Linked DNA regions of Homo sapiens. The protein of the gene in region 1 interacts with the protein of each later gene in a pairwise test. Each region holds a gene or a part of one and is shown on either strand. Other genes may lie near its edges.

Evidence for each region.
Region 2: the proteins of IGBP1 (region 1) and REXO5 interact in a two-hybrid assay, tested with the Homo sapiens proteins (one large-scale study listed by BioGRID and IntAct).

Annotation. Positions count from the first base shown.
Region 1 is NC_000023.11:70,142,122-70,148,001, reverse strand, and holds part of IGBP1 (immunoglobulin-binding protein 1), read right to left. Parts: intron 1,370-5,880; coding exon 1,174-1,369; intron 1-1,173. UniProt on the Homo sapiens protein: Associated to surface IgM-receptor; may be involved in signal transduction.
Region 2 is NC_000016.10:20,843,060-20,848,258, forward strand, and holds part of REXO5 (RNA exonuclease 5), read left to right. Parts: intron 1-874; coding exon 875-967; intron 968-1,569; coding exon 1,570-1,786; intron 1,787-1,994; coding exon 1,995-2,182; intron 2,183-3,161; coding exon 3,162-3,280; intron 3,281-5,199.

The DNA.
Region 1 (5,880 bases):
CTTGAAAAGCACTCATCTAGACATGCTCAAGGGGCCTTATAACCTTAGAATATTAATTGTTCATTCTTTGATCTCTTAACATGAAGAACTAGGTTGATGTTATCCTGAGGCAAGAGCTCCTGGGCTAATTAGTACAAATCAAATTAGGAAGAGGTTTCTCTGAGGACTTAAATAAATGCCTGTGACTTGCTGATAAATTCAACCCAATTCATGTTGTGTCCTGAACCAAAGAACAAGTGGCAGCAGAGCCTATTCTTTTGAAGCAGCAGCTCCAAAACAGGGTTATGATGTTCAAAGATAGCCAAAGCTGTTACACCAGGTTTCTTTACCAGTTTACTGGACATTCTGTGCATGGAAATGCCCTTGCTGTGTCTCCTACGTGGGTAATCTAAAGGTGTGACAGTGCATCATTGTGGCAAGGTTAAATTCTAATTCCTCCTCCAACCTAAGCATATCCCCCTGGTCTTTTATTTCACTCTTCCTACTCTTTTCTCCCTCTCCTCCAGTTCTACCTTTCTTCTCCATTCCCATCCTCTTCCTCTCTTCCCCTTCATTATAGTCAGCACAATTTTTTTTTTTGAGATGGAGTCTCATTCTGTCACCCAGGCTGGAGTGCAGTGGCATGATCTCAGCTCACTGCAACCTCTGCCTCCCAGGTTCAAGCAATTCTCCTGCCTCAGCCTCCCGAGTAGCTGGGATCACAGACGCGCACCACCACACCCGGCTATTTTTAGTAGAGGGGGTTTCGCCATGTTGGCCAGGCTGGTCTCAAACTCCGGGCCTCAAGTGATCTACCCGCCTCGGCATTCCAAAGTGCTGGGATTACAGGCATGAGCCACCGTGGTGGCCAGTTAGCACAGATTTTAAAGGTTTAACTCCCTATGCCTTCCCTCAGCAGCCACAGCTTTCCACAACCAAAACCAATTTTTATTTCAGAGACATTTCTGTCCCCCATGGTATACCACAAAATTACAAATGACTACAAGTGTGTTACAGATTAAAAAGCACTGGGGAACACATTAAATTAAAGAGAAAGCTACCTTAGTGACCCTTCGGCCTTTCTATACTCATCTTGATAAAAACAGTGATTTTATGGAGACTTAAAAGGATCTTAATTTGATCTCCTGTAGAATACTCAAATCTCTGGCAGTAGATTTCTCTGGCCAGGCTTACCTCTCTTGAAGAGTCTCTTTCTCTCAGGATCTTTATTTCCTGGTCAATGCTCTCAATCTCTTCTAAGCTGATATCAATCCACCTCTGAAGGTGAAGAAGATAATATTCACGAACACGCTCATCATCTGCTTGACCACTTTCCACAGCAGATTTCATTGCAGACAACCTATGCTCCAACTCCTTCTTCTGCTTGTATCTGTTCCACAGAAAAGCATTACCCATGAACTTACAAATGAAGAGGTATTCCTTCAAAAGAAGGCCTCAATAAGATTTTACCTTTGCAAATGATAGGGTAGTAAGCATACCAATTTCCACCTTGGCAGGGATATAGATTCTATACCCCAGAATTAGCCACCAGGCAGTTCCCTCAGATGACAAGTTAGGGCCCAGCAGGGGCTGAGGAGTACCTTCTGAAGCCAGAAAAATACAGAAGTAACCGGATCTCAGCAAGTCCTTTAGGGAAGATGAGTACCTTAGTCATTTGATTATACTGGCCTTTACTAGGGTGGGTGCTTAGTATCGCAACACAGTGCTTCCTGTGATGCTTCCATTTTGGGAACTACACCTTCAAAAAAATCATAGAATCTTAGGGGTCATTTACCTGCCACTGATGCAGGAATGCCTTGTGAAACAGCCTAAAAAATGATCAACTCTTTTTTTCTTCTGGGCAAAACTTTCGCAGCTCTTCTGGCTCATCCTTTTATCATCTGAAGACTCATAACCACCCTGGCTGCCTTTCTTTTTCAGGATGCATTCTAGTATGTCATCTGACAAATGTCTACTGAGTACCTATTGTGTGACAGGCACCATTCTCAGTGCTGGAGACACAGCAGCATATAAAAGTCCTTGGTCTCATGAAGCATTCATTCCAGTGGGAGTAGACAAAAAGAAATAGATGAGTTAGGTCGTGATAAGTGCTATGAAAGAGCAAAAAGTAAGGTCAAATGCATACAGTGATGGTGGAAAAGTAGCGGTGCTATTATATACAAGGTAGTCAGAAGAGAACTCTCTGAAGAGATGACAGTGAACAAAGACTTCAGGAAAATAACTAAGCCAATATCTAGAAGAGTATGCTAAGGAATAAAAGCAAATACGAGGGCTGTGAGGTGGGAGCGTGCCTGGCCTGACATGGCTGAGAAATAACAAGGTGGCCAGTATGGCTGAGATAAAAAAGAGTGATAGAAAATGAGGTCAGACATAGCCAGGGCCATAATGTGTAGAACCTGGTAGGTCACAATAACCAAATATCAAATATCATGGTATTTTGAATGGGAAAGCCACTGGAGGCTTTTGAATACATGACATGAATAGAGTGACATAAAAACACTTTTAAAAATATGGGCCACTCTGGCTGTTGTGTGGAGTATGGGCTGTGGGGGCTATGAGGCAAGGATATAAGCAGGGAAAGCAACTAAGAGGATACTGCCACAATCCAAGTGAGAGATGGTGACCTGAAATAGGAAGGTAGTGATGGAGATAGTGGGATGTGGGTATATTTAAAATATAAAATAGATAGGATTTGTTGATTTATTGGATGTAAGAGCCTGAAGGAAAGAGAGAAGTCAAGGAAAAACATCAAGATTTCCAAGAGACGTATCTTGAAATATCTCTGCTTGAAATCCCACTTTAGACTCTCCAGAATCAGATGTTCCTCAGTAGGTCTTCACCCAAATCAGGGGGTCTTAAGCTGAAGTCCACAGAGAGTTCAGTGTGGTGGGGGTGGTCCTTGAACTCCCACAAATTTTATACAGAACTCTACCTGTATGCTTTCTTTTTCTTTCTTCTTTTTTTTTTTGGCTGAGAAATTTTTATAGATTTTATCAAATTGTCAAAGGGGCAAGGGGTCCATGACCCATGAAAAGTCAAGAACCGGCCGGGCACAGTGGCTCAGCCCTGTAATCCCAGGACTTTGGGAGGCTGAGGTGGGTGCATCATGAGGTCAGGAGATCAAGACCACCCTGGCCAACATGGTGAAACCCCATCTCTACTAAAAATACAAAAATTAGCTGGATGTGGTGGCAGGCGCCTGTAATTCCAGCTACTCAGGAGGCTGAGGCAGGAAAATCGCTTGAACCAGGGAGTGAGAGGTTGCAGTGAGCCGAGATCGTGCCACTGCATTCCAGCCTGGCAACAGAGTGAGACTCCATCTCAAAAAAAAAAAAAAAAAAAAAAAAAAAAGTCAAGAACCACTGTTCTGAAAAGGCTATTATAAAAATGTTTAGGCTCTTCTGTTCCTTTTACCTAACAAGTGGACATTTACTATAATGTTACGAATAACTGACACATCATCATCCTAAGAAGCTTTTTGAGTAAAACACTACAAAGAACTACAATTCCTAGTTCATGAATGCTATCAGAGATATTACTTGAGAATGTTTAACTCCAATCTCACTCCTATCCCCAACCCTCTTTCCTGGATGTACCTAAGTCACGGGAAAAAAATAACATACGAGGACCTTAGGGTGATATAATTCAGGGTAAATTCAGGGTTAGTCTAGTAGTCCTCTGAATAAGGTTCTTTTGTTTCTTTTCCCATTCTCTGCATGCTTAAGGCCTAACTACTGCACTCTGCTCCTTCCTTTTCTTCTACTTCCTAGCTTCTATGACTTTGCTCATCATCTTTGTTTGTTTGTTTGTTTTTGAGATAGAGTCTTGTTCTGTCACCCAGGCTGGAGTGCAGCCGCACAATTTCAGCTCACTGCAACCTCCACCTCCTGGGTTCAAGTGATTCTCCTGCCTCAGCCTCCCAAGTAGCTGGGATTATAGGTGTGCACCACCACACCCAGCTAATTTTTGTATTTTTAGTAGAGATGGGGTTTTGCCATGTTGGCCAGGCTGGTCTTGAACTCCTGACGTCAGATGATCTGCCTGCCTTAGCCTCTCAAAGTGCGTTCCAGGCGTGAGCCACCGCGCCCAGCCTGCTCATCATCTTTTAAACTTCTAACTCAACACTTGTTCATTTGGGCCAGTGTTTTTAAAACTGTTTTAGTAAAAGAACCTTTTCTTCTAATGAGAGATGCCACGGAACTCCCATAATTAATAAACAAGTAAAATTTACCTTGGTTAAATCAGGAGGGCTGTCAACACCCGCCCCCCCAACCCCCAGGCATTGCAGTGAAATTTTAGGGCTCCAAGGAACATATGGAAAACTACTGTCTTAGACCTTCATCACTGTTATGGATTCTCCATGGTGGGCCATTACATGGAAATACTCCCTGTTACCCTAGAATCCCCTATCCTTGTAACCCTTCTGACCCTGGGCAACTTCCATTTCCTTTCTCTGTTCCCAAGCTGTTGAAGAGAGTTAAGGAATTAGAAACTTGTATCAAATGGGTCAACTACAAATCACTATTGTCAAACTTTGGCTGAGTGGTCACCCTTGCTCAGCCATCCTTTCGTTCATCTTTTGTGAAGACTATTATCACCATCACACTCACCAGATGGCCAGCCAATGTAGAATTCAATTTCCCTCTTCACCATAAAATCTCTGTAACTGGCCGGGAATGGTGGCTCACGCCTGTAATCCCAGCACTTTGGGAGGCCGAGGCAGGCGGATTGCCTGAGGTCGGGAGTTCGAGACCGGCCTAACAAGGAAAAACTCCATCTCGGCCGGGCGCAGTGGCTCACGCCTGTAATCCCAGCACTTTGGGAGGCTGAGGTGGGTGGATCACAAGGTCAGGAGATCGAGACCATCCTGGCTAACACGGTGAAACCCCACCTCTACTGAAAGTACAAAAAATTAGCCGGGTTTGGTGGTGGGCGCCTGTAGTCCCAGCTACTCGGAGGCTGAGGCAGGAGAATGGCTTGAACCCGGGAGGCGGAGCTTGCAGTGAGCCGAGGTCGCGCCACGGCACTCCAGCCTGGGCAACAAGAGTGAAACTCTGTCTCACAAAAAAAAAAAAAAAAAAAAAACAACTCGATAACTTCACTCTTCCTCTTTTACTGTTGTCTTTAAGGAGCTGATTCTGTCTCTACCAAGCCATTTCCAAGGTAATATCTTTGTGTTTTTTTTGTTTTGGTCTCACTTCGTTGCGCAGGCTGGAGTGCAGTGGTGTGATGACAGCTCACTTTGGCCTCTAGCTCCTGGGCTCAAGTGATCCTCTCACCTCAGCCTCCCGAGTAGCTAAGACTACAGGCACACATCACCATGCCCAGCTAATTTTTAATTTTTTTGTAGAGACGGGGGTCTCACTACGTTGCCCAGGCTGATCTTGAACTCCTGCCTCAAATGACCCTCCTGCCTCAGCCTCCCAAAGTGCTGCGATTAAAGGCACAAGCCACTGTGCCCAACCAAAGGTAATGTCTTTACCACTCCACTTTTGTTATCAATCTAGTACCCCCCACACATTCTTCCGGGCCTCACTCTATTTATTGATCATCCTCCTGGTCATTAGCAGCTAGTTTTTCACTCTACTGGTGCCTTTCCCCTGTCTTAGAAACACTTTCCCTCAACTCATTTTTCTACCCTTTCAAATGATCACTCTTCTCTTTATTTTTGAGACAGGGTCTCTACTCTGTCACCCAGGCTTGAGTACAGTGGTGTGATCACAGCTCACTGCAGCCTCAACCTCTCAGACTCAAGCCATCCTCCAACCTCAGCCTCCTGAGTGGCTGGGACTACAGGTGTGCACCACCACCCAGCTAATTTTTGTATTTCTTGTAGAGACAGGGTTTCACCATATTGCCCAGGCTGGTCTCGAACTTCTA
Region 2 (5,199 bases), on another chromosome or scaffold:
TTGGGTTTGATTTGCGTTTCCCTAATGATTAGTGATGTTGAGTGTCGCAGGCAATTTGTACATCTTTTACAGCAAAGTCTATTCACTTGTTTGCCCTTTTTTTCTTATTTATTTTTTTCAGTTCCAGCTACTCTGCAGTGTTTGCCCATTTTTAAATCAGGTTGTTTGGCTTTTTTATTGTTGAATTGTAGGATTTCTCTGTACATTCTGGATATTAATCTTTTATTAGCTATGTGATTGCAACTATTTCTCCATTCTGTGGGTTGCTTTTTGACACTGCTGTTAGTGTCCTTTGATATACAAAAGGTTTTAATTTTTATGAAGTCTAATTTGTCTATTTTTAATTTTGTTGCCTGCCTTTGATGTCATATTCAAGAAACCATTGCCAAATCCAGTGTCATGAAACTTTTCTATGGGAAGGCTTTTATCTCCATATTGATGCTATGGCTCAGATAATCACAAAGATTTAGTTACTCCGAGTTAACAAACAGAAAAGCAGACCATTTGAAGATGTAGCCTATCCAGTGGAAGAACTTATCCTTCCCAAGCTTATAAAGTTAAGCCAAAAGACAAATGGGAATCTCTGCCCGTGACTTGCAGTGATGACTTTAGTGATGCATAATAAATATTATGAAAAGCCTGTTGGGTAGTTCCATTTTAAATGACAAAGTTATTTGTTGTCTGAAAGCTAGTTTCTGAACTTTGATGATCCCATTTAAAGTTGACAGTTTACAATCAATACTTGTGTAGCCCAGCACAGTAAAGGCATCCATTCTGGTGGCTTTGGCCACTGTAGTTTGAATCCTTTCCCCAACCCCTTCTTTAGCAGTTTGAGCTGGAAAGCAATGATGAGGAAATCTTGGTCTTTCTGCAGCCTCATCTCTGTATACAGTATGAAGTCCTAGAAGCTGCCCAGCTGGCCATAGAATCCTTGGATGGTATTCTGGTAGATGGTATCTGCATCAAGGTAGGGTGACAAGAGAAAGCCCCCTTTGCTTGGGTCTGGCCTACCACAGCCTGTATTTATAGTGCCCCAGGACATATAGGAAACACTCTCAAGAGGCCCACGCACAAGACTTTGTTATGGAAAGTCTTCAGCCAAGTCTAACATTCTCCTACTGGCAGTGATTGAAGACATAACGGCTTTCATTTGTGTCAGAAATCATCCTGGGCTAGATTTGGGTCTTCCTTGCATTCTTTGTTACTACTTAAGTCCCCTGTGGTTTATTCTGGTTGGTTCTTTGTGGTTACCCTTTTCTTCACCTTTCAGGGAGATCAAATGGTGGTATTTTGAAGTTTCTTGTGCACATAAACAGAATTTCATTAAGGGTGGGAGGCAGGAAACTGAAGAGAATATGTTTACATGAAAATATGTATTTATCAATTAAGTCTCTAACATAATTCTGTGAGGCCATTATCTTTAGTTTCCTTTTACAGAAAAGAAAAGAAACGGAAAATTTTAGGAAACTGAAAAATGAAGTTATTAGTAATGGCAACAACTTGCTAGTATCCAATAGGCCTGAGGATTAAATTGATTTTCTACCACTAACACCAACTTTCCTTGGTTAGGTGCAGAGGCCTGTGACAGAGCTCACGCTTGATTGTGACACCCTCGTGAATGAGCTGGAAGGAGATTCTGAAAACCAAGGCTCTATATATCTGTCTGGAGTGAGTGAAACCTTCAAAGAACAGCTATTGCAGGAGCCCCGCCTCTTTCTTGGCCTGGAAGCTGTGATCTTGCCTAAAGATCTTAAAAGTGGAAAGCAGAAAAAATACTGTTTCCTGAGTAAGTCTATGCTACTGAATGTAGCTTTGGGGAAGGAAACTGGGGATGGTGATAACATGAGGTCAGAGAAAGGAAGATTCACCTCCTGGGCTGGACCAGGGCAGCAGTTCCTGATTCTGTCCTTCTCCTTTGACCCTGGCCAGGCAGCTTGGATGGTGATCAGCTTTCTTGGCCCTTAATAACATAAGGTGGGGGTTCTTGCTTTCAGAATTCAAAAGTTTTGGCAGTGCCCAGCAGGCCCTCAACATTCTCACAGGCAAGGACTGGAAGCTGAAAGGCAGGCATGCCCTAACCCCCAGGCACCTCCATGCCTGGCTCAGAGGCTTACCACCTGAATCAACAAGGCTCCCAGGGCTTCGTGTTGTACCTCCCCCCTTTGAACAGGAGGCCTTGCAGGTGAGTGAGTGAAGGCGTCTTGGAGAAGATGTCAGGAGAGTCCTGCTCAGTGACACTTAATCCTTTAATCTTTTTTTTTTTTCTACCCTGGCCCTCAGTCTTATTTCACTCTCCAGCTTCCTCCAGTCCTGGCCACATCTTTTCTCGCAGATCTCTCATACTTTTGCCCCCACCATACCTGCTAAACTTAGTTTTTTAGTCTTCCAGATCTCCAAGGGACTTTGAAGGACAAAGGCAGGAAGTCAGAGAGCTGGACAATTATTCAGTGATCTAGTCTAGGGTTTCCCAAAGTGTGGTATATACACAAGATAAATTGTGGTTGTCATAGATGGTCTTTTCTTTTTTGTTTTCACTTTTATGATTATGGACTTGTCCGTCTTTTTATTATATCTAAGACATCTGAATGGACTTGTTTTGCTAATACTTGTTAAAGTATACAATAACTACATTGAGCCTATGATTTTGTGGATGGCATTAGTTAGACAAGGCTAAGGAAGAAATTAACTCACTTTATGGAAAAATGTTAGAGGGATATACAAGCAGAAGAGTGGAGGTAGAAGGTAAATGGCTGAAGCTTGGGAAACCCTGTCTTAGTCTAATCTCTCATACTTAACAGATGAAAAGTAGGGGCTAGAGTTGGTAAGTCACTTGCCCAAGGTCACAAAGAGACTTAATGGCAGAAGCCAGACTAGACCCCTCATCAGCAATGTGGCTCCCCTAGCTTGGGGTCTTGGAAGACCCATGTGGAGGAAAGGACAGTAGCTGTCCTCCCCTGAGGAAGTCCTTAGCCAACTTGGAGGCCTGGGGATGCTGGGTCAGCAGAGAACCTGCAGTGTGGGCTCCAGTGTTAGAAAAGGGATTTGTCTGGAACCTTTACTGGAATCCCATAGCCTTAGAGGCAGAGGAAGAGTGTTGCAGCCCTTCCAAAGGTAACGAGAGAGTGTTCTGGCTGAGTATCGACACATGGCTTTGATCCCAGACTCTGAAACTGGACCACCCGAAGATAGCAGCCTGGCGCTGGAGCCGGAAGATTGGAAAGCTCTACAACAGCTTGTGCCCGGGCACTCTCTGCCTCATCCTGCTGCCAGGAACCAAGAGGTAAGGACTAGAAAGGGTATCCCTTCAGGACTCTGTCCCCTGGATTTCAGCTGTTCTTAGAGAAAAAGCCTTTTGCTGATATTTAGGCACATAGTGAGGACTTACATGAATCATCTCTTTAATTTTCACCGTTCTAAAAGATAGGCATTGTATTCCCATTTCACATTTATATGCTCTTGTATAACTACATTTATTGGTCCCTCAAGGAGATAATTTATCCCCAGTTAAAACCAGGAGTCTTATGTCCTTACTGCTCTCTGGAGTAAGAAGTAGCTGCTAACCCCACTTGAGTAAAAAAAGTAAAGTCTCAGAACAAGCCCTAGGCTTAGGTGTAACCACTCTACATGTGAGGAATGTGTTCCTGCCTTCTGTACCCTTTTCCCCATTGACACCTATGTTTTAAGAGATAACAGGGCCTGGTTTGCTGATTCTAAGCCTGAGGAATACTGGAGCAGGACTTTGAGTCTAGTTGCAGCTTTATCACCTATCTCCTCTGACAAGTGGCCAAGCTACTTCCCCACTGTAGGTCTCAATGTCCTTTTAGTAACATGAGGGATTTGGAATAAATCAGTTGATTTTCAAACCCTTTTAACTGTAAACCCTTTCTTTAAAGAAAAACTGATATTAAATCTTAAAGCATAAAGATGGGCAGTTTTGGAATGAGTGAGTGGGCAGCTAAATGAATGAGTGTATATTGGGGAAGGGAGGGAAAGATGGTGGCTTTTTTGAACAGTGTGAAAACCTTGGGTTGTGTTAATTTTTAAAAGTCCCTTGAGATTCTGACATCTGGTTAGGCGCAGTGGCTCATGCCTATAATCCTAGCACTTTAGAAGGCCAAGGTGAGCGGAGCACTTGAGCTCAGGAGTTCAAGACCAGACTAGGCAACATGACAAGACCCTGTCTCTACCAAAAACACACACACAAAAAAAAAAACAAAAAAAAAAAACCCAGCCAGGTTTGGTGTTGTGTGCCTGTGGTCCCAACTACTTGGGAGGCTGAGGCACGAGAATCACTTGAACCCAGGGGGCAGAGGTTGCAGTGAGCTGAGATTGCACCACTGCACTCCAGCCTGGGCTACAGAGTAAGACTCTTATCTCAAAAAAAAAAAAAAAAAAAGATTCTTACATTCTAGGAGTTGACAGAGCATGAATACCTCTGGCCTTGAAGGTGGATCAGAAGAAATTCATTTCCTAGCATAAAGTTCTTATAACATGCATCTGAGGACCATTAGGGAGATGGTCTACCTACTGGGCACCTTTGAAAGAACCGCTTTCTCTGAAAAGCAGAAACAAGTATTAGGTGCTTACATTGAGGGGAAAAAAAATCTTAGACCAACATACTTTAAACAGGCTTGTGGGTAAGCTAACAGGAACAGGTTAAAAAGTGACCACAAGTTGCCAGTAAAAGCTTTTTGGTTAAGATGTGGGCTCTGGGGAACAGACAGACTTGCTCCTCAGGGGCAGTGTATGGTGGTAGGTGGACTGGGTTTTCATGTTCTCACGTAGAATACTTAGATTACAGTCCACCATTGTTTAGGTAAACTAAGTCAAGAGTAGCCCAAATCATTGTTCTTCCTGGATGTTCCACAGAGGGTGAAGCCAGAGGAGGAAGTGCTGGGGTCAGGGAGCAAAAACACTTAAGTTGTGACTGAGACAAAGGTCCTAAGTTTGACAAGTCAGTAGAATTAAGCACCCCCTGGAAGCAGCAAATCCTGTGGTGAAGAAACCTGAACTACTCCTATCCTTTAAAAGTCACATTCTGATTTCTGTAGACATATTGATCAAACTCAGCAGCAGTAGCATGCATTTCCCCAGGCTGTGGAAGCTTGCTGTGTGACTGACTTCTCTGGGCCTTGTTTGTGCAGTTGTGTCCGTGATGGCAGCAGATACTCTTGGGAAACGTTGGGGAAAAAAGGAATA